Linked DNA regions of Homo sapiens. The protein of the gene in region 2 interacts with the protein of the main gene of each other region in a pairwise test. Each region holds a gene or a part of one and is shown on either strand. Other genes may lie near its edges.

The links. The genes of interacting proteins can lie anywhere in the genome.
Region 1: the proteins of SSX2IP (region 2) and PIMREG interact in binary tests that used the Homo sapiens proteins (3 or more experiments, as listed by UniProt).

Annotation. Positions count from the first base shown.
Region 1 is NC_000017.11:6,447,455-6,449,711, forward strand, and holds part of PIMREG (protein PIMREG), read left to right. Parts: intron 1-8; coding exon 9-304; intron 305-1,568; exon of another isoform or gene 1,569-1,857; coding exon 1,858-1,953; intron 1,954-2,249; coding exon of another isoform or gene 2,250-2,257. UniProt on the Homo sapiens protein: During mitosis, may play a role in the control of metaphase-to-anaphase transition.
Region 2 is NC_000001.11:84,662,962-84,666,461, forward strand, and holds part of SSX2IP (afadin- and alpha-actinin-binding protein), read right to left. Parts: intron 3,272-3,500; coding exon 3,161-3,271; intron 1,592-3,160; coding exon 1,456-1,591; intron 1-1,455. UniProt on the Homo sapiens protein: Belongs to an adhesion system, which plays a role in the organization of homotypic, interneuronal and heterotypic cell-cell adherens junctions (AJs).

The sequences.
Region 1 (2,257 bases), on a different chromosome or scaffold from region 2:
TGTTCCAGAGAATCCAGGAGTCCTGCCAAAGTGGCACCAAGTGGCTGGTGGAGACCCAGGTGAAGGCCAGGAGGCGGAAGAGAGGAGCACAGAAGGGCAGTGGATCCCCAACTCACAGCCTGAGCCAGAAGAGCACCCGGCTGTCTGGAGCCGCCCCTGCCCACTCAGCCGCAGACCCCTGGGAGAAGGAGCATCACCGCCTCTCTGTCCGGATGGGCTCACATGCCCACCCATTACGGCGATCAAGGCGGGAGGCTGCCTTCCGGAGCCCCTACTCCTCAACAGAGCCCCTCTGCTCTCCCAGGCAAGTGGGATAGTGCTTCACCCCGGGGCTGGTGGCCTTTTAACCTGGGCACAATCCCTGCTGTCTGACCTCCCAGACACCAACTGGGCCCTAGGGGTTTCTTGGCACCCCCTGTGGCTACCTGGAGCCAGGGGCACCCTGAGCAGCGTCATATTGTATTATTATTATTCTTACTGTTAAATGTGTGTCCTGCTTTAGCAGATATCCAGTGCATGTATTTGCTCATCAGAAAATGAGAAAACAGGCTGGGCGCAGTGGCTCACACCTGTAATCCCAGCACTTTGGGAGGCCGAGGCGGGTGGATCACCTGAGGTCAGGAGTTGGAGACCAGTCTGGCCAACATGGTGAAACCTCATCTCTACTAAAAATACAAAATTGGCTGGGCGTGGTGGTGCACGCCTGTAATCCCAGCTCCTTGGGAGGTTGAGGCAGGAGAATCGCTTGAACTCGGGAGGTGGAAGTTGCATTGAGCTGAGATCGCGCCACTGCACTCCAGCCAGGGCCACAGAGCCAGACCCTGTCTCAAAAAAAAAAAAAAAAAAAAGAGAGAGAGAAAGAAAACAAAACAACAACTAGATTCCTAAGGATTGTATTTCAACTTTCCGGCTGAGTTCTAGGGGGAAATGGAGTGTGTTAGTTAAGGCTGCATAGTAGCTTAGGGCTGTTGAATTTTTCCCCAGATTTCTTTGAGGGCTAGCATCTTTCTTTAGCCTAATAGGAACTTTGAGCTGTAATTAAGGCAGGCTCTGTTTGTCCCATTTGACAGGTAAGGAAACGGAGGTCCGGAGGGGTTTGGTGATTAGCCTGAGGGTCATCCTGTAAGAAATAGAGGAGTAAAGGCTGGGGTCCAGATCATCTGGATGTTCTGCCCCACCGATCAAGCTGGCCTGCCTTGCAGAATCTTCTAGTTCTCAGACAGGCCCAGAAAGTGGCCTGGCTCAGGGCAGGGGGTGAAGCTCATCCCAATCGGCAGTCCCTGGCAGTTTCCTGGTCCCATCTCGGAGCTCTCAGGGAAGGCTGCCTAGCCGCTGCACCTGTGTTGTGGCAGGTAGTCACCAGGATGCATGTAAGTGACCAGGTGGCTCTTTGCAAACCTGTAAGCTAAAATAAGGCTTGTGTACACTTCAAAAATACTCTCCACATCTGTATTCTGACCCGGTTCCGCGTCCAGAGCCAGCAGGGGACCTGAGAAAATCCTTTAGGACCTTAGTTTCTCTGTCCGTAAAGGAAGAGCTGAGTTTAGTTCTGACACAATCACACTCACCCAAGCCTCCTAGTGAGCCCAGAAGCAAGTTTTGAAGCCACCTGGAGAGCTGAGGCTCAGTTTCCAAGTGGGGAAGCTGCAAAATCACTTGCCCGTGACCTTGGCCTCGTGGATCTTGATCTTCTCTCTGTTTGTCGCTCTGAGGTCACCTCCTGGAGTGAGGGTCTGGAGTGAAGCCCAGCCCGCCAGGGTCATCTGGGCCCACAGACCACACCCCGGTACCGGGTTGCAAGGGTCTCCTGCCGGGAGTTTCCAACTAGTCACTGGTGTGGCTTTTTCTTTCATGCAGCGAGTCTGACAGTGACCTAGAGCCTGTGGGGGCGGGAATTCAGCATCTCCAGAAGCTGTCCCAAGAGCTAGATGAAGCCATTATGGCGGAAGAGAGGTGAGTTGGCATCCCATGCTTCAAAGTGAAGGGGCCGGGAGGGCCCCTCCAGCCATCTTTGTAGGCAGGCGTTGGTTCTGCTCTGACCTGCTGTGTGACCCTGGCCAGTCTCTGCCCCTCTCTGGGCCTCAGTCTCCCTCATCTCAAACATGAGAAAGGACAAAATCCTGGACTGGGGTGATGGTAAAGGATGTAGCCTGAATGTGTGTGGTCTTCTGGGCCTTGGGACCCCATGTTTGTCCATCACTTGGAACCTCACGTGTGGCTGGTTCCTGAAAAACCTGCCCTTCCTCCAGAACTCTCC
Region 2 (3,500 bases):
CCACATCTACTTGTTTATATACTGCCTATGGCTACTTTTCTTGTTACAATGGCAGAGATAAGTAGGTGCAACAAATAAGTTGTAGATCCCATAAAGCTGAAAATGTTTACTATATGGATCTATACAGAAAAAGTTTGCCATGTCCTGTTAACATTAACATCATCATTTTCATCAAAGGAGTCAAAGCCCCTGATAGTAGTAATATCTTCTGCTGCAGGTGGACATGGAAACATTTGGCGTAAAAAGGAAAAAGAGTAAATTATTATAATCTTAGAGTTAATAAAATCATTATGAAACTGTCACTTCCGATTGGACCAGGAAACAGCCAGACCGCTATAATGGAAGAGCTCTGTTTCCAGAACTAAATCCTTAATAAACTTCTCTGTGTTACACTTTATACTTTCAGCATTTCATCCTGCTTTTTAATTTTTTTCCTTCATGAATGAATATGAGGCTAACTAAACTTAAAAACCAATGATTCTCCAAATGAGTAAGATTAACTCAGGATACCTAAAGATTTCCAATCTTAACGGCGCATTACTGAATCTTCATTTCTATTTTTCAACAATTTAAAAAATAAAGTATTCAGATACCTCCAACAGCTCTGCTGCAGAATGACAGTGATGTAGTCAACACTAAACTGCTTGCTGACAGCAGGCAGAGTCTACCACATGACAGCCTGAAACGTACGCTCATCGCCTGTTTTTCAAATCTAAGGTAAGACAGTTTAGGGGTGTCACGGTATAATGTATGTTAGAGGACTACCTATAGTCACTAGGAAACCACTCTTCAATAAATAAATACACACACTTCTTGTGCCTCGTATTTATACCAGGCCAGCAAAACTGTATTGTAAAGCTCTACTTTCGTGTTTCTTTGCTTTTTAATTTACACTATCTACTTGAAATTATCCACATATTTGGATGAAATGGCTTAAAGTTTTGAAAAAGACTACTATTAGGAAAAAAGTATACCTTAGACACACACACGCCTAACTTTTATAGTCCATCCTTTTGACTAGCTGCTCCAAAAATGTACAGCTAAACTTATTTAAAGGAACTCAAACTGACATGAACGATTTGGTCTGATGAAAAATTTTATGAGGTTTACTCTAAAATACTTCTTTTGATACTCAGAAACTGACACTGATTTTTAATATTATCAGTTCTTTGCTATGGAAAATTAGAATGTCCTCTGGCTTAGTTTTCCTCTATGGATTAATTCTACACTGGTCATGTTAAAAAATACATGCAATTAAATAAAGCAAGGCAGAATGACTTACTTTCCACTAACCAGTTGTCTACATTTTTTATATAAACAAACACCACTGAAAATCAATTGTATAAAGCATGAAAATAACATTTCGTGAGTTACTGTGTTCAATCCTTTTACAATTATTTCTAAGCATAGTATTAGCTTATTTATTCTCTTAGCTGATCTTTGCCAGCTGTTTACCTATTTTCTTATCTTTCTTGTTCATAACAAGTTGATGTAGACGTTCCTTCAGTTTATTATATTCACGCTCTTTTCTCTTCATATCATGATTATACTGAGTAGCTCGACTTGCAATGATATTTTGTAATTTTTGCACCTGAAAAAGGCATTTGCTATTATAAGCCCAGTAACGATTCACAAATTTGAAAGAGAAAAATCCTAAAATTCATCTCCCCATATAGGTTTTAAAATCCTAGGATGATTCTTCCTTATTTGTAACCAGTAGAAACCACTTTTTTAAATATTATATGAATCACATAAAGTTTTTTTAATTCTGAAATTTCCAGAAGCGCTAATTTTCTAAATTATCTCCTATACCTTTTACCTTACATATAGACTCTGATCATTTAAAAACCAGATATTCTTATGGAAGTATTAAAACGATTAAAACTTCATCTGAGATAAACAGAATTCATCTGATCATTTTTAGTGAACTCCTTGTATTACTGACTTACAATCACTTATACTTTTTATTAATCTGTGACAAAGTGAATTAAGCCTGTGACACATGGCAGCAGGTAAGCAGGCTCGTTTTTCTAATTAAAAACAATTCTCGAGTAAGAGTAAGTCCAAACAGCAGAATAATCCAGTCCAAATATTTGCTGAGTATCTACTAGGTGCCAGACACTGCTGTTCAAAATTTAGATCTATTATAGTTTCTCAGGCAACTCCTGACAGAGTATGTCCTATTCTTTTATAAAGCCATTCCCAGTCCCTGCTAGGGATCAACATGATTAACTTAATCCCTACCGAAGATGAGCTGTATTCAAACCGTTTAAATATAATCAACAGATCTAGTCAAAATTGTCTGTGAACTCAAGGAAACACGTACAAGCAACCTTACAGTTTAAATACTAATTACCTACTACTTACTAAATATACTACTAAATAAACAAATATGGTAAAACAAATCTATCTAAACCACTCCAGGGCGCTTTAAAGAAATACACTCCTCAGAAGTCTTTAATTGTAGTTAAAACAACATATAAAACACTGAAACTAAGTATTATATTTTTATAGTTATTACATGGTCAGGGGTCATACTTTAGAGCAATAAAAACATAATAGTTTCTTTCTACACAAATTAAAAAATATATTTTGAAATGCATTAGTGCTATAGGTCCAAGTAACCACTAAAGTAGAAATTAGAATTCTGCTAAGTAACCACTAAAGCAGAAATCAGAATTGTATCTTTTGTGTCAGAAATTAGATTTTTAATGTGAACTGCTTCTGTGCCCATTTAATGAAGAAACTGGTTGACTAGACGAACAATGTCAATATTTAAGACAGTGCATGCAAGAAGGGGCACCTCAGCTATCACGTACAGGTACAGCAGAGAATAAAAGATCTGCATTTAAAGCACTCTTGTGCCTAAGAAAAAGTGACAGTGAACATGAGTCCAGGAAGGGCAGTCCAGGACACTGGCTGTTACCAGCTATGAACTAATATCTAAGCCAAATGGATCCACTGGGGGCGGGGTCTGTAGTGGAGAGGGTTCCTGAGCTTCCAGTTAAATACTATTACACAAAGGTCCACCATATCAATTTGGGGAAAGATGAATAAATGGTTCTTTCTTTTTTCAAGTAAAGTGGCTCTTATGGTCATCTCATATTACAAAGAAAACAAAAATTCACTTAAACTTCATCTGCAATAACTGACAACTCACCTCATCTTTCTCATTCTTTAGTAGCTGATGCAAATTCCTGTTCTTACATTGTAACTGTCTGTCTCTTTCCTGAAGCCCAATCATTTCCCTCCTGGAGGTTTCCAGTTGTTCCTAAAACATTTATAAGCAATTTTGCTTAAAATTAATAAAGGATTTAGAATAACTGAATCCTTAAAATATCAGTAACAAGAAGTTATACATCCTAGTGTTTATTAGTCAAAATCAAATGTTAGTGGCACATGAAATGTTTATTTAAAGGAATTATTACAAAGCACACTATAAAATAACATTTAAACTTACACATCAAATTTTAATCTACATATCAAATTTTGTACACATA